Regions from separate parts of the Homo sapiens genome. Here all the other regions are linked to region 1. The links come from fine-mapping of genetic effects on gene expression. A gene starts in region 1. Each other region holds a variant in brackets. All regions are shown on one strand. Distances are from middle to middle. Region 1 holds the start of LINC02218 (long intergenic non-protein coding RNA 2218). Region 2 overlaps LINC02218 (long intergenic non-protein coding RNA 2218). Region 3 overlaps LINC02218 (long intergenic non-protein coding RNA 2218). Region 4 holds the start of TAF11L13 (TATA-box binding protein associated factor 11 like 13).

Region 1 (8,110 bases):
GGACATATAAATCCTGTATAAAACCTGAACTTTGAGCTATGAAATTCTGGTGGCTTTCTCAACCCAGTCAGTTTGACACTGTGAAATCTAAGACTATACCCGAAATGCTCATTCATTTTGAGGTATGTGTGTTTATTTAGGGCTATTTTGCTTTTAACCAAGTGGTTATCCTCAAAATATACAGCTTCTGTCGGGGAGGATAAAAGGAGGAAAATCAAAGTTTAATCTCCAGTTCTCATGGGAGAAATCTGAAGAGCAGTTGTCCTCCTTTAAAAAAAGTTAATAAAAAATGTTTTCATTAAAAGATAAGATCGTGGCATGTTAAGACAATTTAACCATTTTAATCTAATGCAATAATTTCCTCTAAAATAGATACTGTGTTTGCTATCCAGTGGGCAGTGGTTTGGGAGAGTATTTCTGAAAGATCCTTTGGCTAGTAGTTGCCTAGGACAGAATTTACCTCGGGAACAATACTCACACACAGTGACCATTCCCACTATTCTTTTGACTACACAGCTTACACTAAGGTAATAAAAAGACCAGCTATGTTTTCAGGATGCAGTCAAGACCCCATCCAAAAATAAAATAAAACTTACATTTTAAATTAACTTAAATGCCTATATTTTATTCAATTTGCTTCTTCAGTGCTAATGTTCATCTGTCAAATAAAAACTGTACAATGTTTACAGTACAAATAAGAAGAAAATGAAGCACAATGATCAGGAAGCATCTTCAGACAAGTTACATTCATAACTCCAACCATAGCATAAAATGTTTGTAAATTAATTTTTCAGGTTTTGATGCACTTTTCCAACATATATGTCTAATTTTTGTATTTTAAATCACATGAGCACTACAGAAACAAATATAAATAAATAAAATCATCTTTCAGCCTACCTACCCTGACTTCATACCCCCAAACACTTTTTTCTACACATTTGCATAGAAAATACTAGAATGTTTGAGTGTCTATTATATAGAGTATCATTTATTCAACAGAAAGAGCTACCAAGTGAAATGGTACACATTAGAAGAGAGTGATTTTGCAATTGCTGGATCACTTGACTGTGACTTGAGAGGAGGTTTCTAGAAGAAATTCAAAGTTTAGATGAATGCCTGAGGGTAGTCTCTTCTTACCTTAATCTACATGTTTCTAACCCATCATTATCTCAAAGTTATCACACACACACACACACACACACACACACACACCACAGTTTCTCGACTTCACTGAAACCCACTGTCCCCTAAGGATACTGCTTCTCCTCTCAAGCAGGGGCTGGGAGATATTTTCCATCAAACTCCAAATATCTCAGTATCAGAACCAAGGCAACGTCCTCCTGACTACCCAATGCCACTTGCAGACGAATGACTGCACTCTCTTTTGTAAGTTGCTCCTTTGAGTAGTTGACAATAAGAGCTTCTTCTCCCTCTAGTCCTCACTTAATCATTTGGTCACTCCTTAAAGAATTTAGCACTCAACTCATAGTCTCCTTTTCACCCAACCCTACCATCATGCTAAGCAGATTTAACATCACTTGGATGCACCATCAACACCTTGCCCAGCAGTTCCTTACCCTGATACCCACTGATAGTTGTCATCATTCACCTCAAGCACCAACTTCCACAGTCACACCATGAATTTGGTTAACATTGGAAACTGCACTTCAGATAATTCTGCAATAATATAAATACCTTCACAAACACCACCACCACCATCTTCAACTTCCCTTTCCAATGGCCTTGTTTTCGTCCCCTCATACAACACTTCTACCTATCAAGAACTGCAATCCAGTGACACTTCAACTTTCTCTACATTCATCAGCCTCCTCAGCTCTCCACATCTCTCCATCAGTACAATGTCACCTCCCTCCCCCGTGTCCACCTCCAACTCCTGGCTTCGTATTTTATCTGGCCTATTCCTATTCATCCTTACTCGTACCGCTTTCTTAGAAAGGGGCTATCCAGACTTCTAAGCTAGATGATGTTCTTCTGTTAAGCCACCTTGTAAGTTCTTTGTGCTTTTCTTAGCTATTATTCAAGCACAACAATGATCATATTGCAATTAATGTCATTGTGGATTTGAACATGGAAGGTCTATTTTATCCTAGATTGTAAATTGGTTAAGAGCAGAGATCATGACTGTTTTACTCTCAATTACATATGTCAACTAACACCATGCCTGGCACATAGAAGGCACTCTAGGAATATATGTGGAGTCACACACACACATACACATACTTATGCATACACACTCATACACTTACCCATGAAGATTTCTTCCAGTAAATGGGTATCTGTATTATGCAAGCAACATGAAATCAGAAAGAACATTTTGGGGTTTTTGCTGCCTAACACCAAAACTAATTGCAGCCACTCTTCAAAAAAATGCAATAACTTTATAAACAGCCACATCCTGATTCTTACGGTTGAAAGCTCTCCATTCTCTGCTGAATATTCATCCGTTGAGAGGGACACTAGCCTAGAAGCTCAGCACTTTCTGAAAAGAGAAGCAGCAGGAATAGAAGATGTGTGGAGAGGAAAGAAAGTCAAAGGCAGGCTCCTGCAATGCAAAGGTGCCAGGAACAACGGTGCAATCCCAGGCTGTGTAACACAGGATGGAGGAGGGAGATCTCACTTTTATTGTAAATAGCAGAATTCTTTAAAGGTAGCTACATTAGCAATCAGATCTCATAGATGCTGGAAACACAAACACCTCCTTTCTCATTAAGGGTAGGGGGATCCAGCATAATTTCTCTGGACCAGGAAGATGGAGGAGTCTTACTTCTCTTGCCTTCCAACTGCATCCCCCACTCAATCCTAGATTGCACAAGGAAGTCAACACTACCTCCCCCAACAAGCTCCAAATCCCTCTCTTCACAGCATTGTCAATTGAATCTCTTCATCCAATCTTGGAAACAGTCTGGAAAAAGAAGCAGAGGAGAGAAGAAAGGGGAAAAGTTCAAAAGTACTTTAAACTCTGCCAAAAAAAATCAATTAGTACCAATATACACAGAGAAATGAATGACAGAAGTCATCGCAGCAAGGTATTTCCTCATGACTCCTTCAACTGGCCAGGGCCAAACCAAGGTGTGCAAATAATCTGAGCAACTGTACACTTTGGCACACCTTTGCTATGTATACATACCTTCAATATGTATTTACAGAAGCTGGAAATTGCACAGGGCAGGACCAGGAAAGAACGGGCAGAAATGTTCAACTGCATGGCCAATGTCCTGAGCTTTAGCCCCAGAGTTGTGTGTCCTACTCTGAAGCCCTACAAGTCATAGGACCCATTCACCCCAGAGCCAGTGCAGCCTATTTCTTTGAGATCTCAGTCCCATCTCTCTAATGGTATCAAAGAACCCTCCATTTACATTTAGTGCTCTCTTTGAAAGGAGCCATGATAGACTTTAATCCAAATTTACAAAAAGAAAAACTGGATTCCAAAGAACGATATAATTAGCATAAATACTGGGACTACACACTGCCACATAATAAAACAGAAAGCATCAAAATATATAATTGTGTATAGCACCTATACACTAGCATAGGTCAAACAGCTGAATGATTAAAGGAGTTTTGTTTTGTTTTGTTTTAATCAGTCAACTAGGAACTTCTTAATGCAGTCACTTTGGCATGATACAAACAAAATCTTTCAAACTACAACACATCTTAGAAACAGCAAATACTACTGCTGTTCACGTAGCAAGGAAGGTTACAAGTAAATCTCCCAATATCTCAGGTGTAAAGAAGTGTTCTAACAAGGTCCATTTGTATTAAATCAAATCACCAGACTAAGGCATCTATTTTGCACCACTTACTCAGAGCAACAGACAAAAAGACAGGCCTTTGGGTTTATTTATATAAACATTCTTCCACAGGTAGTCACAGAGGAGGAAGGAGTACAATGTAATTTGATGGTGGATGAATTTGCACAAAAAGGAGACTAAAAAAGAAAGATTATTGTGACCCAACACTCACTCTTTACTTTTTAAAGTTGTGGGGAAAAGAAATGGCAAAGCTTTCTATTTCTGTAAGCTTTTGTTGTAAAGAATTGAATAAAAAATAGCAATACCTAATCATCTCTAAATTACTTCAACTAAAAACACCACTAAAGACCTTATAATCTTTTTTTAAAAAATTCATTCTCATAATTTCTTCCTTGGCCCTGAAAACGATGGTTTAAAAATAGCTTGATTTGCATCTTATTCTTTTACTGCCTTTCTACAAATACATTTTGAAATGCTTGCTTACGGAAAAGCTGTTGCCTGCTTAGCTTTCATCATGTATGAGATCACACTATTTCGCTCACCTGGAACTGTCGTGTTCTCTGTTCCCAGCAACGGTCCGATAAGGAGCATCCTTGCTAAATGATATGTTTAAAGTATGTATAGCTACGTGTATTTTCAAATGCATAACCAATTTCTTAAAAGAGATGGTAACTCATGCCAGAAGCAAGGAAAAGATTGAAAGGCAGGCCTGGAAACAGAGCTGGCCCAGTAGCAGCTCCAAATATGTCAAAATGCTAGTGTTATTTAAGACACCGATACAATATCCCTGATGATGAAACAGGAAACGTTCCCTTGCGCCACCCGCAGGGTGTGCAACAGGAGGAGTGGCTCGCTTCTTCCGTGCCCCACTGCTCAAACCTCTAGGGGAGCATGCGGACGGCTGGGTTGTGGGGCTCCAACCCAAGAGCAGTGTCTAGGGGTGAATGTTTACAGCTGAAGCCCCAGTGGGCACACGTGTGTTACAGGGTGCTCTTTTAGTTTTGCCATCTGTAGGCGACTTGTGTTAGTCAGCTCAATTAGACCCCCTGGCTTATCTCAAGGACAGAGGACTTTCTGTATCCCAGGGTCCTTGCCTTGGTGTACCGGAAGAATCAGATCACACGTGGGCTTGGAGAATGAGTTCAAGGTTTTATTGAGAGGAAGTAGCTGTGAGCAGACAGGGGAGACAGAAGGGAGATGGAGTGGGAAGGTGTAGTTTCCTGGAGTCAGGCCACCTAGCGGCCTGGCTCTCCTCCAACCACGCAGCCAAACTCCATGTCCTTCCGCCAGTCGATGGCCTGCCAGGGTCTGCCTGTCGGCGTGCTCTTGTTGACGTCCTCTGGACGTCCAGCCGCTTGTGTGAGTGCCCACTAGTGTTTCGGGGTTTTTATAGGCACAGGATGGGGGCGTGGTGGGCCAGGGTGGTCTTGGGAAATGCAACATTTGGGCGCAAAGGCAGGAGTGCCTGCCCTTACCTAGGTCTGTGGGCACAGGCACCGGGGTGAAGCCCTCGCCAGAGACCTGCTTTCTCCTCCCAGCACTTCCCTGCCCCCCTCCCTTATCAATAACATCTGCATTTGTAGCTGGGTAACCAGGGTATTCTTCATACAGCTGCAAGTATCTGGCTAATATATTGATAGGGTTTGGATCTGTGTCCAGGCCCAAATCTCACGTTGAATTGTAATCCCAGTGTTGGGGGTAGGGCCTGGTGAGAGGTGATTGGATCATGGAGGAGGATTTCTCATGAATGGTTTAGGACCATCCCTTTGGTGCTGACGGCAAGACAGTGAGTGAATTCTCAAGAGAGAGTTCTGGTTGTTTAAGAGTGTGTGGCACCTTGCTCGCTCTCTCTTTCTTGCTCCTGCTTCAGTCACATGAGGTGCCTGCTCTCATTTCACCTTCCACCATGAGTCAAAGTTCCCTGAAGCCTCCACAGAAGTAGACCCAATATGTTTCCTGTACAGCCTGCAGAACCGTGAGCCAATTAAAGCTCCTTTCTTATAAATTACACAGTCTCAGGTATTTCTTTATAGCAATGCCAGAACAGCCTAATACATACATTATGTCTTCAAGTGGGGGTGAAGACATGCTGAACATTTACTTCTTGAAATATCCACTATATGATAGTCAGGGTGTTGTATGTTTAAAGCATGTATGTGTATAGCTTACGTTATTAAAAATTATTGTTTTAGAATAGAAAAAGGAAGAGTGATAAAATATTAGGCTGAACCATATGAAATTGCTGATATTTTATAACTTTTAGTCAACAAAATTCTCAAATGAGAGCTTTGGGTCCAATAAGTTTGCTTTGCCCCAGGCAACTTGCCCCACTAGTGTAATTCGGGGTCAAGCCATGTGCAAGACTATCAGACAGTTTGCACATCCAAGCATGACCACTCCATGCTCTATTATGCTAAGACAGTCTCTGTAACTTTTCTGCTTTGAGTTAAGTTACATAAGTCCTCTTTCTGTTACCCAACATTTGTGGGTGCCAGGTCCCTGAAAGGAAGCTATAGGAGCAGGTAAAAATTCTTTCCATATTTATTTGTGTGGAATTTTTACTTTTTGACTGTATACCAGATGTAAGGAAGTGTTCTTGCTCTAGGGCCATCTGTCATTGCAGAGGTAGGATAGATTCACATAATGATAGAGTAGAAAAAAATAAGTAAAGTGACCCAGGTTTAAATCCTGTCACCTGCTGTTATTGGTTGTGTTTCACTTCTTGACCTACAGAATCCTTGTCTATAAAACTGAACTGGGGACCGTGCCTAGTCATGTAAGTTCATTGTAAAATTCAAACAAAACAAAGTCTGTCAAGGATTTTGAAATGCCAAGATACAACCATGTGATCAGGGAAATTTACATAAAGAACAGAGTTGGGATCATGATATTAGAAAAACCAGAGAGCGATCGGACACAATGGTTCACACCTATAATCCCAGCACTTTGGGAGGCCAAGGCAGGTGGATTGCTTGAGTCCAGGAATTCAAGACCAGCCTGGGCAACAAAGCAAGACCTTATCTTTACAAAAAAAAAATATTAAAAAAAAAAAAAACAGACAGAAAACTAGAGTGGGCCAAAGTTAAGGGCTCTAGAAGTTCAATTCCAAAAGGAATATTTATTCAGAACGCATCAAAGGGTCTACTGGAATTGGAAACACAGTCATCATTCTTAAGGATAAGAACAGCCAATTCCTTAGATGCAGGTCTTCTGAGTCAGTGGACTCCACACTCCTGGGCTTGCATCCAGATTATCATCGACTTCTGTACTGATGCTTGCAGGGGAGGCTCCGTGGACTCCCTGTATATCTGGACACACAGAAAAAAAGGACAGTCAAGTTTTTCATGTTGGACAGTAAGAATTTAATTTGTAATCTCTATTTGTCACATATGTCCATACTTTTCTTTGTGATAGTCTCATCTGAAGCTTCTGGAAAAATAGGGGAAGATCTTATGGACTGTTAGGTTGGAAGAACATAGCTGCCCAAGGCTTCTTAAAAGTTGACCCTAAGGGGACTTGTGGTTATAAATAGAATGCCGTTAGTTGCAGGAGAATACAATCCTGTTAGACTAACTAAAAACGACAAATTAATTGCAAAAAAAATCCATATAAAGAGATCAGTGAATTATGGAAACAAAAAGAATTAAAAGAACAAAAATTCCAGAGAGCAGAGTGTTTTGCCAAGATTAGCTACCTTTCACAGGCTATTTTCTTTCTTGGGATGTTTGCTGATTTGAAACACAGATCAGATCTGGTTCATGCAGAAGCACTGTAGGAAGGAAAGAGAAGCCAGCAAAGCTTGTGGCATTCATAGAAGCAACCACAACAATTTGGAAACAAAAGTATCCCCAAATGCCTTGCCAATTTTCCTCATAGTACCCTTGCTAAATTGAGGCTGAGTAAAAGGTTAGGAGTTTCTGCAAAGTAAGTTAAAATCTTCAGAAGTCCCATAATAATTGGGAGGAAAAGTTCCACTGGAGGAAAGGAGTCTGCTCAGAAGGTGGCTGGTCTCCCCAAGATTCTCATCAAATTTGGATGGAGCATACGGCAGGATACTACACAGCCCGAAACTTCCACTTTCTTTCAGAGCTGTCAATCAACAGTGTGGAAGAGACAGGCCTGAGGAATAAAAACATAGCTAGAAGTGGAGAGGATTTTACTAAAATGTCAACCCAGTCTTGACCTAGTTCAGCCTCTTGGATTGGGGTGATCACCTCCTCACCTTATCTGCCCCACAGAGAAAGCACAGATTCCTATCTGGTCGAAGTAGCATCATACAGAGCTTTGACATGTGCTTTGTCCACAATATCTGGCATACAGTCACATATTACTAACAT
Region 2 (8,110 bases), 22 kb before region 1:
AGTAAATTATCAGAGCTTTTATTCTGGATACAGCTTCTTTCAGTGCTTTCTTATCCTCTCTTTTATGTGTCTTATGTAATTCCTGTCTCATACAACCTGGCCTCAATATTTAGATTGCCCCTTCACTGTGTTGCAGGGGTTTTTTTGATAGAAAATTTGTTACTGATTATGCACTTTCCCAAGGTTTATTCAAAGCATTGACTGTCTCCCAATGAAAGAATTGCTTCAGCTCATATGCTGTATTTTCCCGGGAGTGGACTGGGGAAAAGAGTTCTATTCACACAATCCTGCACTTTCCTTATTCTTGGTAGAGTGCTTTGTTCTGACTACCTGCCTTTGAGGCTGCATCCCCTCCATTCCCCATGCCTCCCCCCTTCCAGGTGCTATAAACCACCATTCTAAAAGTTTGAACCCTTGAACTCCTGTGGCAGGTAATCAAGCGAGGAACTGCTCATTTAGTCCAAGCTGAAAACAAATTCCCCTATTCTGTAGAACATAAACAGGGTTACACCTATATCACACCCTTAAATACTTCTGATCTGAAGAATCCTGGAATTCATACTGTCTACTCATGTTCCTCCCAACATCACCTATGCTACCTTTATCACATATATGTGTTCTTCTTGTTAAAATGAAGGTATATAAAAATGCTGCTTAAGTATAATCAACACACACACACAAACACACACGCACACTAAAGATTCTTTCCAGAATGCATGTATTTATGCCAAGTAAGAGTAACAAAAAGAGAGTAAAATGTGTAGAATTCTGATATGTTGGAGAGCTTCTTCAAAGAATGGAATATGGCCTCAAATTCCACCTGTGAACTGGCAACCTTGATTTACAAACAAGAGAACAGGGTAATATACTCACATAATTAACACTACCCAAAGACTGTAAAAAGTAAAGTAATATGTAAAGTACCTAGTAAATCTATGAGTCAACAATCCTTTGTCTTTTCATTGCATTTATGTTCTTAACCATTGGTGTTTGGGGGCTTAACCATTGGAGCTTTGGGGCCTCAATATTTCAAATATTCTGTCTAGAAAATCTTTTACATAAAAATATACTGTCATTCAGCTTTTTCACATCTTTGATATTTTTTTCTTAATTTTTTTATTTTGACCTTCATTTTGGTTCATTCCTTTAAGTATTTCAAACTCATCTTACTGAAGATACCCTCTCCCCTGATTTCACATCTCAAAGCAAATGAATACAGACACACACACACACACACACACACACACACGCCAAGACGGCAAAGGATGGTTCCAAATTCACAAGAGCAATCAATAGCAAAACAGACACATTTAAGTACAAATATTTTTACATTCTAGTTCAGTCAATGTTATGCCCACTGAACCATGCTACTGCAGTAGGACATCTAGTACATTGTTACTGATCAGCAATTGCCAAATGTTTAACTACGAGTAAAAACAGCTTTGTGTTCAACCTATGAATGATACCCAGGTCAAAGCCAAACCGCCTCCAACCACTGCATTATTATCCCATCTATTGTTCCCAATTCAATGCTGCAGCCAGCCAACGCAAATCAGCCCTTCCTGGTGGGTTTATTACCTTTCTATCAGAGCCATACCTCCCCCAGCAAGAATAGGAACCCTGACTAAAGCAAATCACAATGTTACCATTCTGGAAAGAGGGGCTTGAATGCAGGCAGCCACCAATACCAGCATCTCCTGCCAGGTGGAAGCACAGCTCTGTGTCACAGGACTTCTCAACAAAGACACATTTGGTTACCTCCTGACACAGAGGGTCAGATGGGCTTCATCAGCTATTCATTAAATTTTACCACAGTTCTTCATTTTCTCTGCCTACATCAAGCTTCCCCTATCTGGAATTTTCTCAGATGAACTGAGCTTTTAGCAGCATCCACTCTACTTCCAAATCATCAGTTTATTACAGGATTTATTCACCGAAATAGGTGCAGTTAAAAACATATTCAAATAGTATACTTTTACTTTTGACTGTTCTACTGTCTTCAGAGAAAGAGTATTTCAAGGAGGAAATAATTTGATAATTACAAAACGTTGGAGCCAGAAGGGCCTCAATTCCAACTGCTGTCTTGGAACTGTCTCTATACCTCGGTATAGAGAAGGTATAGAGAAGTTGAGGCAGTTTCAGGTCACACTAGAAAACCAGGCTAATATCTCAAACCGAAACTGAGGCCCCCAGACTCTCTGTAGAAACTTTTCATCACCCACAATCACCCACATCACCTTACTGCACTATCAACGTGAAGCAGCCGCTATCAGCAACCGGTCATTAGGCATCGGCAAGTGACTCGCATGCTAGGCTGGCTTTTATTCTCATTATTAGCTATTTATTTTCTTCATATTAAGTAAAAAAGATAAAAAAGTAATACAATAGCTCTTGTAAATTTTATTTCCTATTCTTATTCACAAAACAAGTGAACAAGTATAAAGCTCTTATTACACGATAAATAGAAACACTCATTACATTCATAAGCATTATCACTCATATATAGATAACGGCAACCAGAATCCTTACCAATGGATTGGCTTTTTAAAAAAACTAATTTGAGATATTCAAAAAGTCTTACTTTCATTGTTAATCATGATATCAGAATAGTAACTATATAAAACATCTTTTTATTCTGTAATTATTTAGAAAGAAAAAAATTAAATTAGCATCAACAGACCTGGTTACAGGATTTAGTTGGTATCATGGGAACCACGGCATAGCACCATGGTTCTCAGTCTCAGCTGCACATTTGAAACATCTGAGGAACTTTTAAAATCTCAATAGCCAAATCATAGTTACAACTGGTTATTTTTTTTTAAAAGTCTGTAGAGTTGGTATCAAACCATCAGTAGTTTTAAAACTCCCCAAGAAATTTCAATCTGCAGCCAAGTCTGATAATCACTGGCATAATTACAAGCTTTATATAAAATATATACAACATTGGGGGCGGTGGCGGTGGCTCAAGCCTGTAATTCCAGCACTTTGGGAGGCTGAGGCGGGCAGATCGCGAGGTCAGGAGATCAAGACAATCCTGGCTAACACGGTGAAACCCCGTCTCTACTAAAAATACAAAAAATTAGCCAGGCGTGGTGGCGGGCACCTGTAATGCCAGCTACTCCGGAAGCTGAGGCAAGAGAATGGCGTGAACCCAGGAGGCGGAGCTTGCAGTGAGCGGAGATCGTGCCACTGCACTCCAGCTGGGCAACAGAGCAAGACTACGTCTCAAGGCCGGGCGCGGTGGCTCACGCTTGTAATCCCAGCACTTTGGGAGGCCGAGGCGGGTGTATCACGAGGTCAGGAGTTCGAGACCAGTGCGGCCAACAT[A/G]GTGAAACCCCGTCTCTACTAAAAGTACAAAAATTAGTCGGGTGTGGTGGCACACAGTCGCAGCTACTCTGGAGGCTGAGGTGGGAGAACTGCTTGAACCCAGGAGGCAGAGGTTGCAGTGAGCTGAGACCATGCCATTGCACTCCAGCCTGGGTGACAGAGTGAGACTCCGTCTCAAAAAAAAAAAAAAAAAAGACAATTTAAAAAAAAAAAAAAAAGTATATATATATACACAAAATTGAATCCTGCATCTGTCCCTTACTTTATAAACTTGGGAAAGTTTGTTATCACTCTCTGCCTCAGTTTCTTTTCAGTAATACGATGGTGATGATTGATGATGATGATGACAATGATGATACTTATCTTGTAGTGTTGTTATGTGGATCATTGTTAAGGTACATAAATCTCTCCCACAGCACATGACAAAGGACTGGCAGGCAACTAATGTTAGATATCAGTTTATGCAAAAATTCTGTTTCCATTTGTGGTAGAATAGCTCATATCAGACTAAATCTCCTATAATAAGAATATAAACTGCAGACAAATTTTTTTTAAACTGTTTGAAGGCACTGGTATACAATCCAAAGCAGGCAGAAACTGAAGGAGCACAGTAGGTGAGCTCCGTAATTAGTTGGCTTTTCCCCTGATAACACGTTCAGGCTCCCTGCAGTACAAAGAGAAAATGAAAATCAACCAAGAAATGTAATCCTATTGGGAAAAGGACAGGAAGACTGAAGTTCAGAGATTCTAGCAGAACATGAAATTGGAAGAAAAATATTCAGAAAAAAGGGAGACTGCCAAATCTGCAAACAAACTCTCCTCGAATCCTTGGCTTTTACCTAAACTGTCTATTTTCGTGGTGAGAATCTAAGCAATCCAGAAGAAAGCAGCACCTGAAAGGATAAAGAACTGAGAAACTACCTCAGCAGCTACCTAGTGACTCTCCAGCCTACAGCTCAAATCTGGCGAGGTTAGAGGAGCTTGATAAATACCGTTGCTGCTCATTAAGACTCTACAAGGACCACACATTAGGAATAAGAAACACATATCATGACTAAAGTCTATGGCACAGAACTAAGGGAAAAACTATAACAGATGCCCATTCAAAAACTCTAAAACCAAGCCTCCAAAAGATCAAGGGAATATGCTAGTAACTTAGTCACCTTCCAAAGCAAAATTTAACACTCTATAAAAAGATAACAAAAGGTTTATTGTCTTAAATGTTTATCATCCAATCAAAAATTACTAGGCATACAAAAACACATGGAAATATGACCCACAACTAACAGAAAAAAAAAATAGTAAATAGGAGCAGATCCTCAGACTGGTGATATTGACATGTTGACTTTGATGTTGAAATTAGCAAAGGCTTTAAAACAGTTAATAGAATTCTGATTAAAAATTTGGGGGAAAAGGTGGACAAAATAGATGAACAGATGTGGAATCTCAGCGCAGATGTAGAAACCTAAAAGAAAAAAACCAACCAAATCATAAACATTACGAAACTGAAAATACATCACCATACATAAAAAGTTTGTTAAATCAGTTTAATTGCAGGCCAGACCTACAGAAGAAAGAATAAGCAAATTAACTTAAAAACAGAAATATAGAAAAAAAAGAATAAATTCACACACACGAACAGAGCATACAAGACCTCTGGGGCAATATTTTATCATCTAACATATGTGTAATTCAGGTCCCAGAAAGAGATTAGAATGAAACAGAGGAAATACTTGAAGAGATAATAGCTAAAACCTATTCTAAAACTGATAAAAATACATCAACAGATCCAAAAAATTTGCAAACTGCAAGCAGGGCAAACACAAAGATAAACCCATCCAGGAATTTTTTGGCCAAACTGGTGAAAACTAATGATTAAAATAAAATATATTAAAAACAATTAAAGAAAAAAATTATGCATTATATTCAGGGTGACAGCAATAAATATGATGGCTGACTTCTCATGAAAAAAAGAAAGAAGATAATGAAATGATATCTTTAAAATGCTAAATGAAAAATGTTAACTGTTCATTTTTCAAAAACGAAGGTGAATTAAAGCCATTTTCAGACAATGGCTTAGAGAATATATTGTAAGCAAAACCTCACTACCAGAAATGTTAAAGCAAGTTCCTCAGGCTGAAGGAAATGACAACAGATGAAAAGCCTAATCTGCAGAAAAGAATAAAAGAGTGGTTGGGTGCAGTGCCTCACACCCGTATGGGAGGCCGAGGTGGGCAGATCATTTGAGGCCAGGAGTTCCAGACCTGCCTAGCCAACACGGCAAAACCCGTCTCTACTAAAAATACAGAAATAGGAGGGGCCAGGATGGCCGACTAGAAACAGCGGCCTTGGGTGGCTCCTATTAAAAAAAAAAAAAAAAAAAAAAAAAACAAAACAAAAAAAACATAATAAGCATGTGACTCCTTCACCGGCAACCAAGGTGTCCAGGTTCTCTCATCAGAACTGACTAGAAGGCTGGTGTGGCCCACAGAGAGGAGGAAGAACAGTGTGGTGCTGCAGCCACGTGGGGCAGGGGAGCACCCTCCCCTCAGCCAAAGGAGGCGGTGAGTGAGTGTGCTACCTAGCCCGGGAAACCGTGCTTTTTCCACAGAACTGTGCAACCCATGGATCGGAAGATCCCATTTGTGAACCCATGCCGCCAGGGCCTAGTGTCCCAACCCCAGAACACACAGATTCTCAACAGTTGGAATCTGCTTAAACCCACCGAACCTCCGGGAGGAGGGTCAACCAGCAACACAGCTGAGGCTGCCTGCTGTCTAAGCCATTTGAGCTCCTTGGAGAAGGGGCAGCAGCCAGCACTAGGACTTGCAACTGCCTAACACGGAAGCTCCCTGGGTGGGGGAAGGGTGGCATCCATCTCTAAAGCTCCAGGCTGCTCTTTTCCCCTGCTGGAGCCAAGGAGACTGGACGGCTTGCTCCCAAGGCTTGTACCCACAGCCTAACACACCAGTTGTGGCAGTCAGCAGCCAGAGTGCCTCTTCAGGCCTGACCCTGACCCTGACCCATCCTTCCTCACTGGGCGGGGCTTCCCTGCAGAACTCCAATAACTCCAGCCAGAGGCTCAGGGGAATAAGCTGAATCTCCCTGGGCCTAGCCCCTCAGAAAGGGGGTGGCCACAGTCTCTGCAAACCTTTCCTCCCAGTAGTTCTGAGGAATCCGGGCAGCCTAGACAAGTGGGTTCCCCCCCAGAGAAGCACAACCCCTTCACCAAGACACAAAGTGCTTTATTAATGGGTCCTGCTCTCCGTGCCACCAAACTGGATGAGACCCTCCAACAGGGGTTGTCAGATGCCTTATATAGAAGCAGTCCTACTGGCATTAAGTTAGTGCCCCTCGAGGTCAGAGGTCCCAGAAAAAGGAGCAGGCACCCAACTTTGCTGTTCTCCAGCCTCCTTGAGTGACATCTCCAGGCACCGGAGCGAATCAGATGAATAGAGCCTGAAGTGAACTCCCAGCAAACTGCAGCAGCCCTACGGAAGGACCTGACCATTGAAAGAAAAACAAACAAGCAAAAAACAACAACAACAGCATCAACAACAACAACAAAAAGCCCCCACAAAAACCCCACCTGAGGGTCAGGTGGGGTTTTTAAAGACTGAAACTAGACAAACTCACGAAGATGAGAAAGAATCAGTGAAGAAATGCTGAAAACCCAAAAGGCCAGAGTGCCTCTTCTCCAAATGATTACAAAGTCTCTCCATCAGGGGCACAGAACTAGATAGGGGATCAGATAAACAAATTGACAGAAGTAGGCTTCAGAAGATGGGTAATAAAAAACTACGCTGAGTTAAAGGAGCATGTTCTAACCCAATGCAAAGAACCTAAGAACCTTGATAAAAGGTTAGAGGAATTGCTAACTAGAATAACCAGTCTACAGAGGAACGTAAACAAACTAATGGAGCTGAAAAACACAGCATGAGAACTTCGTAAAACATACACAAGTATCAATAGCCAAATCAACTAAAGAAAATAAAGGATATCAGAGTTGGAAGACCACCTTGCTGAAATAAGACATGCAGACAAGATTAGAGAAAAAAGAATGGAAAGGAATGAACGAAGCCTCAAGAAATACGGGACTTCATAAAAAGAGCAAACCTGCAATTGATTGGAGTACCGGAAGGAGACAGGGAGAAAGGAAATAAACTGGAAAACACACTTCAGCATATTATCCAGGAGAACATCCCCACCCTAGCAAGACAGGCCAACATGCAAATTCAGGAAATACAGAGAACACCATTAAGATACTCCATGAGAAGATCAACCACAAGATACATAATCATCAGATTCACCAAGGTCAAAATGAAGGAAAAACTGTTAAGGGCAGCCAGAGAGAAAGGCCAGGTCACCTACAAAGGGAGGCCCATCAGACTAACAGTGGATCTCTCAGCAGAAACCCTATAAACCAGAGGAGATTGGGGGCCAATATTTGACATTCTTAAAGAAAAGAAATTTCAGCCCAGAATTTCATATCCAGCCAAACTAAGCTTCATAAGTGAGGGAGAAATAAAATCCTTTCCAGAGAAGCAAACGTTGAGGGACTTCATTGCCACCAGGCCTGCCCTACAAGAGCTCCTGAAAGATGCACTAAATATGGAAAGGAAAAAACTGGTACCAGCCACTGCACAAACACAACAAAATATAAACACCAATGACACTATGAGGAAACTGCATCAACTAGTGTGCAAAATAACCAAATAGCATCACGAAGACAGGATTAAATTCGCACATAACAATGCTAACCTTAAATGTAAATGAGCTAAAT
Region 3 (8,110 bases), 34 kb before region 1:
AAAACCGGTCAATGCCTTAGATGCCCTAAATCTACCAAGCATAGTTCCAGGCACTTATTTCCTACTTGGTTTATCCTGTTGTAATTTCTTTAATTATTACACAGATACTGAATTTAAACACATAACTGAAACTGTTTATGATATTCAGAGACCATAAGTGTTTCATTTTATTGTCGCAAAATTTCTTGTTGGGTATCAAATAGGTATAAGCAGAAGTTAGCTCTCTGATGACTCTAAAATGAATCTGAAGTTTACAAAAACCAACACAGTGCTTACAAATTATTTTGATGCTTCCTTTTTTAGCTGAACAATATAAAAGGGAGCTGGGAAAGATGAGTTCCCTTCATGGTAGAACATAGAAGCTACATGGACTGGGAAGATTCATTCCAATTCTTCATTCTACCAGATCTGAATCGACTCTGCTCTCTAGTGGGCACCCCCATCCTTTAACTTCGGGGTATGGAAAGATCAAGACAGAAGAAAATAAAAGAAGAAGAAAATAAGGGGCAAGGGAGCAGAAAAGAAAGAGCGGTGTGCTCTATAGGAACTGGCATTTCCTTAGGAGTGGAAAAAGAAAATTCAAACCCAACTATGCCCCTCCATCCCCTAACCTTTCCCTATCGAAGCAAGCTGCCTCCTCTGAACCACTGTACTGAGATTTCTAACAATGCTGTGCCAGCTTTCCCCTGCCTTGTTCCTCTAACAGCTCTCCTCCCATCCTTGAATAATAAGAATCAGCTGACAAACTCTGGGTCTTAGAGATGTATATGCTTCACTTGTGTTTAGCATTGGGCGTGAAGATCCAAGGGGGTAGCAATCACAGAGCATGGTAAGAAACACGTATTTATTCCTAAAGGCTTTCAGGTTGACTGTAGGGTGCATTTACATTGGATGATTTGATTTCTGGAGTGTGTGTGTGTGCGTGTGAGCATGTGTGTGTTGTGTAAGGATTGTATTACCACTAAAACTCTCTGGAATATAGTAAGACCAATTTAGATTTAACACTTCAGTTAGTTGGTTGATTTTATTTTTTCTCCATAAAAATAAATAATTATTTTATTTTTTCTCCATAAAAATAAATGATTATTTTATTTTATAATTTCTGTTTAGGTACCATCACTGAGTGTTATTAAAAAGGGAAAAAAATGCAAGCTAAAAAGAAAAAAAAGGGAGAAAAAGGTAATTACCAACAAATTGTTAAGAATACATCTGTTTTTTTAACATTGCTTATTAGCATTTATTCCATAAGTATTTAGTGTTCACTGAGATTATAGCAATAGTCTCTGGCTTCTCAGCAGACCACATTGTCACCTCCCTCAAAAAATTATATATATATGTATAATATATAGTACTTGTATCTATTATATATTATACTTATATATAATTTTTATATATAGGTATGTATATCTATATGCCTATTAGATATATACACACCTATATATGTGTGTGTGTATGTGTATATATATATATATATATATATATATATAAAGCATATATATATCAGATGGAAACACATCGGTTCCTACCCTTAAACGTGTCTACATCTGTATCCAGATCAGATTTTTCAGATTTCTCCCTTCTCTTTCATCACAATGATGATTCCTCCCCCACCTATAAATTATTCTCTACCTGTGGTCTAAGTCCCACAGTAGCCTCTCTGAAAATATCCCTTATTTATTTATTTCTGTCTTTCCTCTCTACTACTTTTACCCCAGAAGCAGATAAATACTGTCAATGTCTCCTGCCTTGAAAATAATTAACTTCACTCTCCTCATCTACCCACTAGCTATTGGCTATTCTCCTCCCACCTAAGAACTGGGCTCCTTCTGAGAGTTGTCAGTCCGGCCTGTCTCCTCTTGGTCAACTTCTGTTGACTTCTCAAGTCTGGCTTCTGCCTTCATCACGCCACTGACACTCCTCTCATATGTCAAATGCAGGATTTGACAATGTTCACCACTCATTTCCTTTAAAAAAAAAAAAAAATCCTTTTCCTGTGGCTTCTGGATCAGGTTCCCAAGCTATTCTAGGTTGATTTCCCTGTGTTGACATACTTCTTTTTTTTTTTTTTTTTGAGACAGAGTCTTACCCTGTCGCCCAGGCTGGAGTGCAATGGCGCCATCTCGGCTCACTGCAACCTCCACCTCCTGGGTTCAAGTGATTCTCCTGCCTCAGCCTCCCGAGTAGCTGGGATTACAGGCGCATACCACGATGCCCAGCTAATTTTGTGTATCTTTAGTAGAGACGAGGTTTCATCATGGTGGTCTCGAACTCCTGAACTTGTGATCCGCCCGCCTCGGCCTCCCAAAGTGCTGGGATTACAGGAGTGAGCACCACGCTAGGCCAACATACTTCTAAGTCTCCTAGTGAACTCATCTTTTTCTAGCTGGCTGAATGGTCATCAATTATCAGGGTCACTCTCTCAGCCTCTTACTTTTCCCCTTTTCCTGGTTCTCCTGACAACCTCATCCATTCTTGCCTCTTACAACCATCTCTATGCTAATGAATACACCTCCCATTTTCTCCCTTCATTTTCAACTCATAGAATTTCCAAAATTAAAGAAACACAATGGAAAGAGGAATAAAAAATGTATTCCTCATACCATAGGTCTGGCACCAACTTTGAAGTTGTTTTATTTCCCCAAAACTCTGTAGCATTTATGCATCTAAAAGTTGCATCACAGGCTTTGGTTGTGAAGATCTTGAAAAAAGCAGAATTCTTTGCACAGTATATGTTTTTAAACTGGAGATTAAATTGTCAACAAACTGCTTATTATATGTTTAATAATATGACAAGAGGGGTTAGATGATGTTAACTTTGAATTGAATTATTAAATGTTAAATCTGGGTAATGAGTGCATAGGAACACATTATCTAGCATATGTTTAAATTTTCCATAATAAAAAGTTTCTTTTTAATTTCTACCCTCATAGTGCTTACGTGCTACTTTACAAAATACAGAATTCTCAATTCAAAGGAATTGAACCAAAAATCAACCTAATCCCATCACCCTTCAATGGGACTAGAGAAACTAAGTGACTTTTTCATGTTTCCTAGTTTCTTACACAAAAGTATTGATGAAAATGACAGCATATAGACTCATCTATTAAATATGAAATTTAACCAGAGCTGACTGTGTATTGAGCACTTTCCAAGGGTCAAGAGAATTGAGATGAATCATTTGTGCAAAATTTATACTACAGCCTTTGAACCAGTGAACAAGCTAGAATAATGTAGAACATTTAGGGCAGACATCTTTAAGGTTCACTATAAAAATCACAGAGAAAGGAATATACCACAAAAGCCTTCCACTCCTGACAACATGGAAAACATGGATCTCTGAATCAGCTTTGAGAAGGTGACAGCTTTGGGTTTTGTGCTTTAAGGAACACCTAGTTTAAAAATGAAGGTGCCTTGCATGTGCACTGAACACCTTCCCAAATGTTGTCATGTTGCCTGCTGGAATTTTTTTTTTTTTTTTTTTTTTTTTGAGACAGAGTCTCACTCTGTCACCCAGGCTGGAGTGTGATGGTGCAATCTCAGCTCATCACAACCTCCGCCTCTCAAGTTCAAGCAATTCTCCTGCCTCAGCCTCCTGAGTAGCTGGGATTACATGCGCGCACCACCACACCCAGCTAATTTTTGTATTTTTACTAGAGAAACATGGTTTCTCCATGTTGGTCAGGCTGGTCTCAAACTCCCGAACTCAGGTGATCTGCCTGCCTTGGCCTCCCAAAGTGCTGGGATTGCAGGTGTGAGCCACCGCACCTGGCCTCCTGCTTGAATATCTTAAACACTCCTATCAACATAGGTGCTTGTAGTGGGCTGAATGGTGGCACCCAAAAAGATGCGCATCCAGTATCATCTGTCTGGGCTCTAAGTGCAATCACATGTTCTGGGCTCTCAATGCAACCACCTGTATCGTTTTAGGAAAGGGTCTGAGTTTGGGGACAGACACACAGAGGAGAGATACACATAAGAGGAGTAGGTGACATGAAGATGGATCAAGGAGAGACACAGCCACAAGCCAAGGGACAGCTGCAGCCACCAGAAGCTGGAAAAGGAAAGGATCACATTCATCCCCAGAGCCTCTGGGGAGTAAAGCTCTGCTGATACCTTAATTTCAGACTTCTGGTCTCCAGAATTGTAAGGAAAGTAATTTCTGTTGTTTTAAGCTACCTCGTGTGTGCTGATGTGTTACGGCAGCCCTGGGAAACTAATGCAGTGCTACGTTTCCTTCCTTCTGTTAAAGCTACTCAGCTATGCAACATGCTACTGGCTGCTACCTTAGAGTTGAAGAGAATTTGTGTCTCTAATAACATGATGACAGACTTTAAGAGGATTCCTTCAAGAACTTATTTGCATGAAGTAAAGATTCAGTCTTAGAGTTTTCAATATTCATCACATAGGCTATGAGAAGGTCCCTTACTCTTCATTGCATGGGCCTCAGTGTGGGAGGGGGTGTGGAGTGAGTGCTTAACATCTGCAGATAGAGCGGAGTTCACTTAAACACTTACTGATCCGTATCATGAGCAAAGTGGTGTGCTGTCACTGCTACTGTAATGGGCAC[G/A]GCTGAAGACTGGTCCTATGACTTTCCGCAGCTCAGAAGGATGCTTAATGGCATTTTGAAATAGGACTGCCTCTATAATTGGCAGGAACCTGTGAAAAATAAAAATGTAGGGCTTCTTGTTCAAAAATTATCCAGAATATCAAAACAGCAGAGAATTAAGTCAAGTAAGTACCAGGCTCTTCTGAGAATGGACCCTGTGCAACTGCACAGATCAAATGTCCGTGAAACCAACTGTGTTTAGACATATTCAGTTCAAGGAGAGTGTATTGTCAGGGAAAAACCTTCAGAGATGATTCTTCCAGCAAAGAAAAAAAAAAAAAGTGGGGAGTGGAACAAGCTTCCCCTATACCTCAGTGTGGCAGAGACCCAGGGACAGAAAACCCTGGCAGCTGGTGAAGACAGAACCTCTCAAAGCAGAATGAGAGGCAACGAGCCACAGTACATCTCCCAGATAATTAGAGACAGTGATTGGAAATAAACTGAAGCTCGGCCTGGTGATGGGTATCAGAGGAAAGCAAGAGCGCCTTAGCAACATAATTAACAAAGGCTCTAATCTAGTCTTGAGCAAGCATATTTATTAACAAGCTAAATATAGATAGATACTAGTACACAGTAATAACATCAAACATATTAATATGTATATGCTAACATATTGAAATTTATGTACATATACATGTATATCTATCTTTTAGCCATTTTCTCCTTATTGTCTTTATCCCATAGCATTTAAATACTGCCAAATATTATATATTACATGTATATACTACTATTTCATATATATTAGTATACAATACTATTTTATGTAATATATTTAATATTTTATAAAATTGTATATAAATTATCTTATACAATATATGATTGTGTATGTAGTACATGTGGCTTTTTTTTTGAGACAGAGTCTTGCTCTGTCATACAATATATGATTGTGTATGTTAATACATGTGGCTTTTTTTTTTTTTGAGACAGAGTCTCACTCTGTCATACAATATGTGATTGTGTATGTAATACATGTAGCTTTTTTTTTTTTTTTTTTGAGACAGGGTCTTGCTCTGTCACCCAGTCTGGAGTGCAAGGGCGCGATCTCAACTCACTGCAACCTCCACCTCCCAGGTTCAAGCAATTCTCCTGCCTCAACCTCCTGAGTAGCTGGGACTACAGGCACATGCTGCCATGCCTGGCTAATTTTTTGCATTTTAGTAGAGACAGAGTTTGTGTGCCCAGGCTGGTCGGGAACTCCTGAGCTCAGGCAATCTGCCTGCCTTGGCCTCCCAAAGTGCTGGGATTACAGGTGTGACCCACTGCGTCCGGCCAATACGTGTGTATTTTATACTATGGAGGGACCTCATGGGTGCACTGAAGGAAGCATTTAGACCAGTGAATTTTTTTTAACCTTTATCTTAGGTTTGGGGTACAAGTGAAGGTTTGTTAAACAGGTAAAAACGTGTCATGGGGGTTTGTGGTACATAGTATTTCATTACCTGGGTACTAAGCCCAGTACCCAATAGTTATCTTTTCTGCTCCTCTTCCTCCTCCCACCCTCCACCCACAGGTAGGCCCCAGTGTCTGTTGTTTCCTTCTCTGTTTCTTGGTTTCTCTTTTTTACAAGACACAGTTTTACTCTGTCACCCAGGCTAGAGTGCAGTGACACGATCTTGGCTCACTGCAACCACCTCCCAGGTTCAAGTGATTCTTGCACCTCAGTCTCCTGAATAGCTGGGATTACAGGCATGCACCACCAGCCTGGCTACTTGTTGTATTTTTAGTAGAGATGGGGTTTCACACCATGTCGGCCAAGCTGGTCTCAAACTCCTGACCTCAAGTGATTCACCCGTCTTGGCCTCCCAAAGTGCTGGGATTACAGGTGTGAACCACCATGCCAGGCCATTGTTTCCTTCTTTGTGTTCACAAGTTCTCATCATTTAGCTCCCACGTATAAGTGACAACATGCAGTAGTTGGTTTCCTGTTCTTATTTTAGTTTGCTAAGGATAATGGACTCCAGCTCCACCCATGTTCTCTCAAAAGACATGATCTCATTTTTTATGGCTGCATAGAATTCCATGGTGTATATATACCATATTTTCTTTATTTAATCTGTCATTGATGGGCATTTAGGTTATTTCCTGTCTTTGCTATTGTGAATAGTGCTGCAATGAACATTTGTGTGCATGTATCTTTATGGTAGAATTATTTTTATTTCTCTGGGTATATAAGCAGTAATAGGATTGCTGGGTCAAATGGTAGTTCTGCTTTCAGCTCTTTGAGGAATCACCATACTGCTTTCCACAATGGTTAAACTAATTTACACTCCCACCAACAGTGTACACATGTTCCTTTTTCTCCACAACCTTGCCAGCATCTGTTATTTTTTTACTTTTTCATAATAGCCATTCTGACTAGTGTGGGATAGTACCTCATTGTGGTTTTGATTTGCATTTCTTTGATGATCAGTGATATTGAACTTCTATTCATATTCTTGTTGGCTGCATGTAGGTCTTCTTTTGAGAAGTGTATGTTCATGTCCTTTGCCCACTTTTTCATGTGGTTGTTAGTTTTTCTCCTGTAAATTTGTTTAAGTTCCTTATAGATGCTGGATACTAGACCTTTGTCAGATGCATAGTTTGCAAGTATTTTCTCCCATTCTGTAGGTTGGCTATTTACTCTGTTTATAGCTTCCTTTTCTGTGCAGAAGTTCTTAAGTTTAATTAGATCTCACTTGTCAATTTTTGCTTTTAGTTGCAATGGCTTTTGGTGTCTTTGTCATGAAATCTTTGCCTGTTCTTATGCCCAGGATAGTATTGCCTAGGTTGTCTTCTAGGGTTTTGATAGTTTTGAGTTTTACATTTAAGTCTTTAATCCATCTTGAGTTGATTTTTGCATATGGTCTAAGGAAAAGGTCTAGCTTCAATCTTCTGCATATGGCTAGCCAGTTATCTCAGCACCTTTTATTTAACAGTGAGTCTTTTCCCCATTTCTTGTTTTTGTCAGCTTTGTCAAAGATCAGATGGTCATAGATGTGCAGCCTTATTTCTGGGCTCTCTATTCTGTTCCACTTGTCTATATGCCTGTTTTTATACCAGTACCGTGCTGTTTTGCTTACTGTAGCCTTTGTAGTATAGTTTGAAGCTGGGTAACATGATGCTTCCAGCTTTGTTCTTTTTTCTTATGACTGCCTTGGCTATTCAGGCTCCTTTTTGGTTCCATATAAATTTTAAAATAGTTTTTTCTAGTTCTGTGAAGAATGTCTTTGGTAGTTTGATACAGATAGCACTGAATCTGTAAATTGCTTTGGAGAGTATAGCCATTTTAATGATATTGATTCTTTTTATCCATGAGCATGGGATGTTTTTCCATTTGTTTGTGTCTTCTCTGATTTCTTTGAGCAGTGTTTTGTAATTCTCTTTATAATTTGTAATTGAACAATATTTTGCCAATTCTTTCACCTCCCTGGTTAGCTATACTCCTGTGTATTTTATTCTTTTTGTGGTAATTGTGAATGGGATTGTCTTTCTGATTTGGCTCGAGATTTGGCTGTTGTTGGTATA
Region 4 (8,110 bases), 190 kb before region 1:
CAAAGGCAGACAGTGAAGATGTTAAGCTTATCCCAAAATAGTAAATTATGGAAAATAGTCAAGTACAGTCACTTTATTAGGTATCTTGTCACCACTTTACCAGCACCAAACAGAGACCACATTTTTCTAGGCAGTCTCCAAATGTACATTATGAGATAGACTTTAAGAACAGTAATGAAGCTCCAGGAAAAACTTCATTAACATGTAATACAATCAGTCATGAAAGCTGTCAAAGATTTCTCCTGGAAAGATACCACTTTCTACAGATTTCTTTCTTGAGAGCTGTGGCTGTATGATATTATATATTGAGAAGATTTAGTATGTGATTATTAAAAAGTCAGGAAGCAACAGATGCTGGCAAGGCTGTGGAGATATAGAAACACTTTTACAATGTTTATGAGACTGTAAATTAGTTCATCCATTGTGGAAGACAGTGTGGTGATTCCTCTAGTATCAGAAATACCGCTGGACCCAGCAATCTCATTACTGGCTATATACCCAAAGGATTGTAAATCATTCTACTATAAAAACACATACACATATATGTTTATTGCAGCACAGTTTACAATAGCAAAGAGTTGGAACCAACCCAAATGCCCATCAATGATAGACTGGATAAAGAACCTGTGGTATATATACACCATAGAATACATGGCAGCCATAAAAAAAGAATGAGCTCGTGTTCTTTGCCGTGACATGGATGACACTGCAAACCATCATTCTCAGCAAACTAACACAGGAACAGAAAACCAAACACCACATGTTCTCACTCATAAATGGGAGTTGATCAATGAGAATATATGGACACAGAGAGGGGAACATCACACAGCGTGGCCTGTCAGGGGGTGGGAGGCAAGAGAAAGGAGAGCATTAGGACAAATACCCAATGCATGCTGGGCCTAAAGCCTCGATGATGGGTTGATAGGTGCAGCAAACCACTAGGGCATATGTATACTTTTGTAACAAACCTGCACGTTCTGCACATGTATCCCAAAATTTAAAGGAAAAAAAAAAAAAGAATGTGTAAGGACACTGAACCTTCTCAGCTAATCCAATTTTCCTCTCTGAGAAAACAACGCTGTGTTCCAGCTCCTGAACTGACCTCTGAGACCTTGATGGGAACTTGTTTCTGTCTTCAGCAGTTCAGCTTTACTCAGACCCCACTCAAAGTATTGAGTTCTATCAGGGGCCAGAAAAATGTTCTAAGCTTGAGTGTGGAATCACCATCAGCACTGCTCTCTGCAGATGTTTGTCTCAACCTCAGGTTGCTTGGGCCAGGTTCTCTTTTCCTCTAGTGTTCTGAAAGGGCTCGACCTGCCACATCTGCCAGAATACAACTTCCAAGACTGCTCAATGCCATGAAAAAGGAATGAGCTGAGAGCAATATAAAGACTAGGAGATATTAAGTCTCTTGGATCTCACTTCTTTTGGTTGCTCAAGCACTTCAATTCCTGACAGAGCCCTCACATCTCCATCATTTCTTCCAAGAACCTGTACCCTCCTTGTGTCTCTAAGACACACTGGTCTAACTTGTTAAATGCCTTTACAAGAAACTTGGTAAAATAAAAGGAAAGCTAAACGATGTCAGAATATGGAGGTATGAAACATAATTTCCCCATACTTGGTAAAGTTTAGAAATTTGTGTGCTACCCAAAGGCAGATTCTATGTACAATAAGTCCTATATTAAGAGCAAAAGCTGAGTGTATGAGGAAATAAAAATATATTTCATGGGGGTATCTTTGGCTTCAGGAAGAAAGAGAACATGTTATTCTCCATTCAATATTAGAGCTGAACTATGGGGTCTTTTCGATCCTTTTTGCTTATACTCTGTGATTCAGGGGGCACATGGCAAAGGAAAACAGACTGAAATAGCACCATGGATATCTGTGAGCTGTGCTGGGAAGGTTCACGGTGATTCCATAATAAATCCCAGGTCTTTATTCTGTAATGAAAAATTACTCTTTTCCATCATAAAGGTAAAGCAGAGTATGTACAAGTAGAGTGTGGAATAACTTTGTCACTCGTGATGAACCTACTTGGTCCAATACTTTAACGACTTCTCCAATGTCTCTGTATTCAGGTTTGATTTCCTGAGTGGCTCATTAGTAGAATGAATAAAATCAAGACTCCTCTAAAGCAATGTTTGGAACTAAATTTTAGTGTCTCTGGAAGCCCTGGTAATATCACCATGTGTAGCAAACATGAAGTATCAGTAGGCTCTCTCTGTGCCTTTTAAACTACATATATGTTCATTACAAATGGCGGCTTGAGGAAAGGTGGCTTTGGAATTGGTTTCTCTCTAGTCTTACGTGATGCATCTATACTGTATCACATTTAATAAAGTAAAGGGTCACTTGCTGACATAAAGCACAGTAGGCAGGAATAGGAGAAGAGTCAACTTAGAGAAAAAAATGCTTTGTGATTTTATTTTTATTTCTGCAGTTTGGAAAACAGTTTAACTGTTTTTGTGATGACTCACAAAAATACAAAAGAGCATTGAAAATACAGAGAAGGACAACAATTGGGGAACATTTCTGGAGGCTTCACTTACTGAAACCCAGACATAAGCATACAAGCTAAGACACAGCAACACCAGGCTTCAGCATGAAACCATACAAATCTCCTGGAAAGGACTTCCCTCTCTGAATGCAGCTACCTGTCCACAGGATGCTCTAGGCCCAGGCACCTTTATTCTTCCAACTGGAAAGACATACAAAAATGCCACAATATGACCTCAGAGGCCCAAACATTTAGCCAAGGCTCCTATGAAGCAATCTGCTGTCTTCATCCAGGTAAGGCCAACTTCACATTTTAAGACACTATGATCATGGGTAAATACAGGGTAGACTGAGAGGCAGAAGCTCCAGCAAACACAGTCCTGTCATTGGAAGATGAATGCAGTACTTACTCCTGCAAAAACAGACCCTTCCCTCTGGCCTTGGGCCTAGAACATGACTTTTTTATAGTTGTTGGGGAAGAGGCCCTTGGGCTTTAACCTGCAAACAGCCTCCCTTAAATCCATGGGCTGCAATGGGGGCATTTCTCCCCACATCTCACACATGTCCAGGGCCTCTTCCACCACCTCTCCAACAAAGACCTTGGCTATTCCAGCCATGGCAATGGCCATGTTCTCAGGCACCGATCTCCCAGTGATAGACCACATCAGACGTGCAACAAGTGCTTTTGGGAAAGCTAACTGGCGACACACTTCATAGCGGGACAGCTGCTCCTCAGAC[A/G]TGGCAGACAGCAGGGTTGTCATCCTCTGAGCCTCCTCTGCATCCACACTGGGCTTCCTCTCCTTCTGGCCTTTGGTATCTGTTTTCTGTCTTTTGGCTGCAGGAGGAGCTGAGGCTGAGGCCTCATTGTCAACTACTGTGAGGTCCATGACATCCTCACTCCTGAGCTCACATTCCTGAGCCCTGGGTTCTTCCAAGTTCCCATCTAGGGCCTCAGGGATTCCATCCTCGTTGCAGCCCTTCAGACCTCGGGGTATGGCGAACATCTCAGCAGACACACCTGTTTGCCTGCCGGTCTCCATGGGTGAGATTCAGGTTGGCTCCATGACAGCAGCTGTAGAAGCAGAAGTTCCACCTGGGGTGGTTTGATTATGCATCTGAAATCAGAACCTTTCACAGATTTTAGCCGCTATGTTTCTGCTGAGCCATAGGTTAGCCACAACTGGACACAGCTCCCTGCCTCCCCTTTCCACACACAAACACATACACTGGTTTTCTCACTTCCACAATGTGAAGAAACTTGTGGATGGACAGTATATTAGTTTTAGATCAATGCAGAATCAATTCTCACCAATTTTGGATATTTAAAACAAACACCAGCTCACAGGTCAGAAGTTCTACTAGACCAAGTGACTGCCTCCTGCTCAGAGTCACACAAGGGACCTCCAGGATAGCTCTGGCTGTGTGGTCGTTGCCTTCACCTGAGAAGGGTCTGGCTTTGACCTGATTCGAGATTATGGCTTTCTCACAAGAAATACTACTTTGGTGAAACTCTATTGAAATTATCAGTACTTTAAGTTTCCAATACTTATCAAGTACAATAGTTGAACATGGCATGGTAGCTGAAAGTGTAAGAGGCAGAATTTGGCAGACTCCATTTTTTTCAATTTCAATGGTTTCAGGTTTTTTGGTTTCCGCCAAACTAAAGAATGTCCTCACGAGCTGTGAATTCACAGGTCACTACAGACAATTTTTGAAACTGAATCACACTGTAATTTTTGGCATATGATCTGTGAGCTGTGCTGGGAAGGTTCACGGTGATTCCATAATAAATCTCGGGTTTTTACTCTATAGCGAAAAATTACTCTTTTCCATCATGAAGGTAAAGCAGAGTATGTACAACTAGAGTGTGGAATATCTTTGTCACTCGTGATGAACCGACTTGGTCCAATGCTTTAACGACTTCTCCAATGTCGCCGTACTCAGGTTTCATTTTCTGAGTGGATCATCGGCAGAATGAATAATATCAAGAATCCTCTAAGGCAATGTTTGGAACTAAATTTCAGTGTCTCCGGAAGCACTGCAAAAATCACCACGTATAGCCAAAGTGAAGTATCAATAGGCCCTCTCTGTGTCCTTTAAACCGCCCATATGATCGTTACAAATGGCGGCTTGAGGAAAGGTGGTTTTGGAATTGGTTTCTCTCTAGTCTTACATGATGCATCTATACTATATTGCATTATAATACAGGAAAGGGTCACTTGCTGGCATAAAGCACAGCAGGCAGGAATAGAAGAGTCAACTTGGGGAAAAAAAAGTGTTTTGTGATTTCATTTTGATTTCTGCAGTTTGGAAACCAGTTGAACAGTTTAACTGTTTTCAAGATGACTCACAAAAATACATATGAGCATTGAAAATGTACAGAAGAACAATCGGGGAAACATTTCTGCAAGCTCCAATTACTGGAACCCAGACATAAGCATACAAGCTAAGACACAGCTACACCAGGCTTCAGCAGGAAACCATGCAGATCTCCTGGGAAGGGCTTCCCTCTCTGAATGCAGCTGCCTGTCCACAGGATGCTCTTGGCCCAGGCACCTTGATTCCTCCAACTGGAAAGACATAGAAAAACGCCTCCACATCCCATTAAAATGCCCAAAGATTTAGCCAAGGCTCCTATGAAACAATCTGCTGTCTTCATCCAGGTAAGGGCAACTTCACATTTTAAGACACTAAGATCGTGGGTAAATCCAGGTGGGACTGAGATGCAGAAGCTCCAGCAAACACACTCCTGTCATTGGAAGATGAACGCGGTACTTATTCCTGCACAAACAGACCCTGCCCTCTGGCCTTGGGCCTAGAACATGACTCTTTTGTAGTTGCTGTTGGGGAAGAGGCCCTTGGGCTTTAACCTGTGAACAGCCTCCCTTAAATGCTTGGGCTGCAGCGGGGGCGTCTCTCCCCACATCTCACACATGTCCAGGGCCTCTTCCACCACCTCTCCAACAAAGACCTTGGCTATTCCAGCCATGGCAATGGCCGCGTTCTCAGACACCGAACTGCCAGTGATAGACCGCATCAGACCCGCAATGCGTGCTCTTGGGAAAGCTGACCGGCGACACACTTCGTAGCGGGACAGCTGCTCCTCAGACATGGCAGACAGCAGGGTTGTCATCCTCTGAGCCTCCTCTGCATCCACGGTGGGCTTCCTCTCCTTCTTGCGTTTCGTATGTGTTTTCCGTCTTTTGGCTGCAGGAGGAGCTGAGGCTGAGGCCTCACTGTCACCTTCTGTGAGGTCCATGACATCCTCACTCCTGAGCTCACCTTCCTGATCCCTGGGTTCTTCCAAGTTCCCATCTAGGTCCTCAGGGATTCCATCCTTCTTGCTGCCCTTCAGACCTCGGGGCATGGCGAGCATCTCAGCAGACACGCCTGTTTGCCTGCCGGTCTCCATGGGTGAGATTCAAGTCTGCTCCGTGACAGCAGCTGTACAGGCAGAAGTTCCGGCTGGGGTGGTTTGATTATGGATCTGCGATGAGAACCTTTCAAAGATTTTAGCTGCTGTGTTTCTGCTGAGCCAGTTTCGCCGTAACCGGACACAGTTCCCGGCCTCCCCTTCCCACACACAAACACACACACTGAATTTTCTCACTTCCACAGTGTGAAGAAACTTGTGGAAGGAGAGTATATTAGTTTTAGATCAATGCAGAACGAATTCTCACCAATTTTGGGTATTTAAAACAAACACCAGCTCACAGGTCAGAAGTTCTGCTAGGCCAAGTGACTGCCTCCTGCTCAGAGTCCCAGGAGGGACCTCCAGGATGGGTCTGGCTGTGTGGTCGTTGCCTCCACCTGAGAAGGGTCTGGCTTCGATATGATTCGAGTTGGTGGCAGAATTCAACAATGCCTTAGGGTTGTGAGCCCCAGGCCCACTTGTTTGTTCTGCCTGCTGCCGTGAGGATGCTCTCAGCTCCTACCCGTGCTGCCCAGGTCTGGGCCGTGAGGCTCCCTGGGTGTGCACAGCCAGTGCTGGGGAATCTCCCACAGGGGAGCGTAATCACAGGGGGGTTCAGTCCTCCCTTATAAAGGGCTCAGATGATTGAATTAGACCCAGCCCTTAGCAGCCATTGGTTCAGGATATCCCTAATCTAATCAGGAAGTTGGGCGGGCACATCAATTCATGCTTCCGCCCACACCCAAGGGAGGGGCAGACACAGGGCGAGTCTCTGAGGGGAGGGAAATGCAAGGGACATTTCAGAATTCAGTCTTCTTCACAGAATCGAATGATTCCTCACAACAATAAAGAAACAATAAAGAAACTATTTACAGTAAAAATGAGACATTTTACGAAATTGCGCATTAGAAAATTTAAATGTCTGAGAAAAAAATCCCTAACTCATAGGGAAACAAGTGATTTATCAGGCACTCTGAAAATAAACTGGGCTGGGTGATGGGAATAAGAAAATATGATTTCAATGTTATTTTTTTTAATATATTTATTTATTTATTTATTTTTGAGACAGAGTCTCGCTCTGTCCCCCAGGCTGGATTACAGTGGCCTGATCTCAGCCCACTGCAGCCTCTGCATCCTAGGCTCAACGGATTCTCCTGCCTCAGCCTCCAGAGTAGCTGGGACTAAATGTGCGCACTACCACGCCAGGCAAATTTTTGTATTTTTTCAAGGAGAGACGAGGATTCACCATTCCGGCCAGGCTGATCTTGAATTGCTGACTTCAAGTGATCTGCCCCACTTTGATTTCTCAAAGTGAAGGGATTACAGGCATGAGCCACTGCGCCCAGATTTCAATTTTATATATTACATGTGTATGTATACATAGGTCACAGAGAAGCACCAAAGAGACATAAAATTACGTCATGCACAAAGATTTACATCACATTTAGGGAAAATTATGTTGATAAATGGCATAAAAACTACTTCAGAAGATAAAGCAGACACTCAAATATCTGACTTTTAAAGAGCTTTTGTTTATTCAAAAATAGTTGGTAGAAGATATGAAATTACTGGCCAGGCACGGTGGCTCATGCCTGTAATCTCAGCATTTTGGGAGGCGGAGTTGTGTGGATCTCCTGAGGTCAGGAGTTCATGACCAGCCTGGACAACATGGTGAAACCCGTCTTTACCAGGAAAACATATTTACATCGGAATCTTTGTAAGTCACATAGGGCCTTTCATTTCCAATATTTACTGGTACTGAAGTCATGATCGGTAGGTTATAAGCAGAAACAAATGGCAACTCAAAGAGGGAGAACCATCCAAAACTTGAAAATTAACCCCTGAAATAAAACAAACACAGATACATAAACTTCTCATAAAAATTAATTACCATATACAGTTATCTCTCACTATACTCTAAAAAGACACTGAATTTATCTAAGCTTTATATACTCCTCATTTTTCTCTTAAACTCTAGTAGGTCTCTATCTAGAGAGATAAACACCCTAGAGAGAGATCTAAATTAATGACTTCTTAAATGAAAAGATTAGAAGGCCACATGCCCCCAAAATATGCAAGATAATTGAGGCACAAAGAACAAAATTTAATGTTGATTTATGTTTATTTTTATCTAAGGAAAAGAATTAAATTAACTAATGTTTATATACAAAATGACTATAGCCCATAAATTAAGCTTAT

What was found.
Region 2: its variant is fine-mapped to the expression of LINC02218 in whole blood (TOPMed, PIP 0.91).
Region 3: its variant is fine-mapped to the expression of LINC02218 in whole blood (TOPMed, PIP above 0.99). The same link has a PIP of 0.9 or more in neutrophils.
Region 4: its variant is fine-mapped to the expression of LINC02218 in whole blood (TOPMed, PIP above 0.99).

What each region holds. Positions count from the first base shown.
Region 1 is chr5:17,440,440-17,448,549 of GRCh38, reverse strand. It overlaps LINC02218 (long intergenic non-protein coding RNA 2218), which reads right to left and starts at 4,540. Exons shown (of 3, transcript NR_134270.1): 1 at 4,316-4,540. It overlaps LINC02217 (long intergenic non-protein coding RNA 2217), which reads right to left. Exons shown (of 2, transcript NR_134275.1): 2 at 6,856-7,081.
Region 2 is chr5:17,461,986-17,470,095 of GRCh38, reverse strand. All of the region lies in intron 1 of LINC02218 (long intergenic non-protein coding RNA 2218), which reads right to left. Among named protein-coding and RNA genes, the nearest start is that of LINC02218, 22 kb to the right of the region's middle. The variant A/G (reference allele first, on the strand shown) is at 3,328.
Region 3 is chr5:17,474,161-17,482,270 of GRCh38, reverse strand. It overlaps LINC02218 (long intergenic non-protein coding RNA 2218), which reads right to left. Exons shown (of 3, transcript NR_134270.1): 2 at 4,515-4,656. Among named protein-coding and RNA genes, the nearest start is that of H3Y2, 14 kb to the left of the region's middle. The variant G/A (reference allele first, on the strand shown) is at 4,568.
Region 4 is chr5:17,629,889-17,637,998 of GRCh38, reverse strand. It overlaps TAF11L13 (TATA-box binding protein associated factor 11 like 13), which reads right to left and starts at 5,911. Exons shown (of 1, transcript NM_001401695.1): 1 at 5,315-5,911. The coding sequence starts at 5,911. The coding sequence ends at 5,315. TAF11L14 (TATA-box binding protein associated factor 11 like 14) reads right to left here and starts at 3,539. Exons shown (of 1, transcript NM_001401687.1): 1 at 2,946-3,539. The coding sequence starts at 3,539. The coding sequence ends at 2,946. RefSeq lists an enhancer at 5,375-6,127. The variant A/G (reference allele first, on the strand shown) is at 3,238.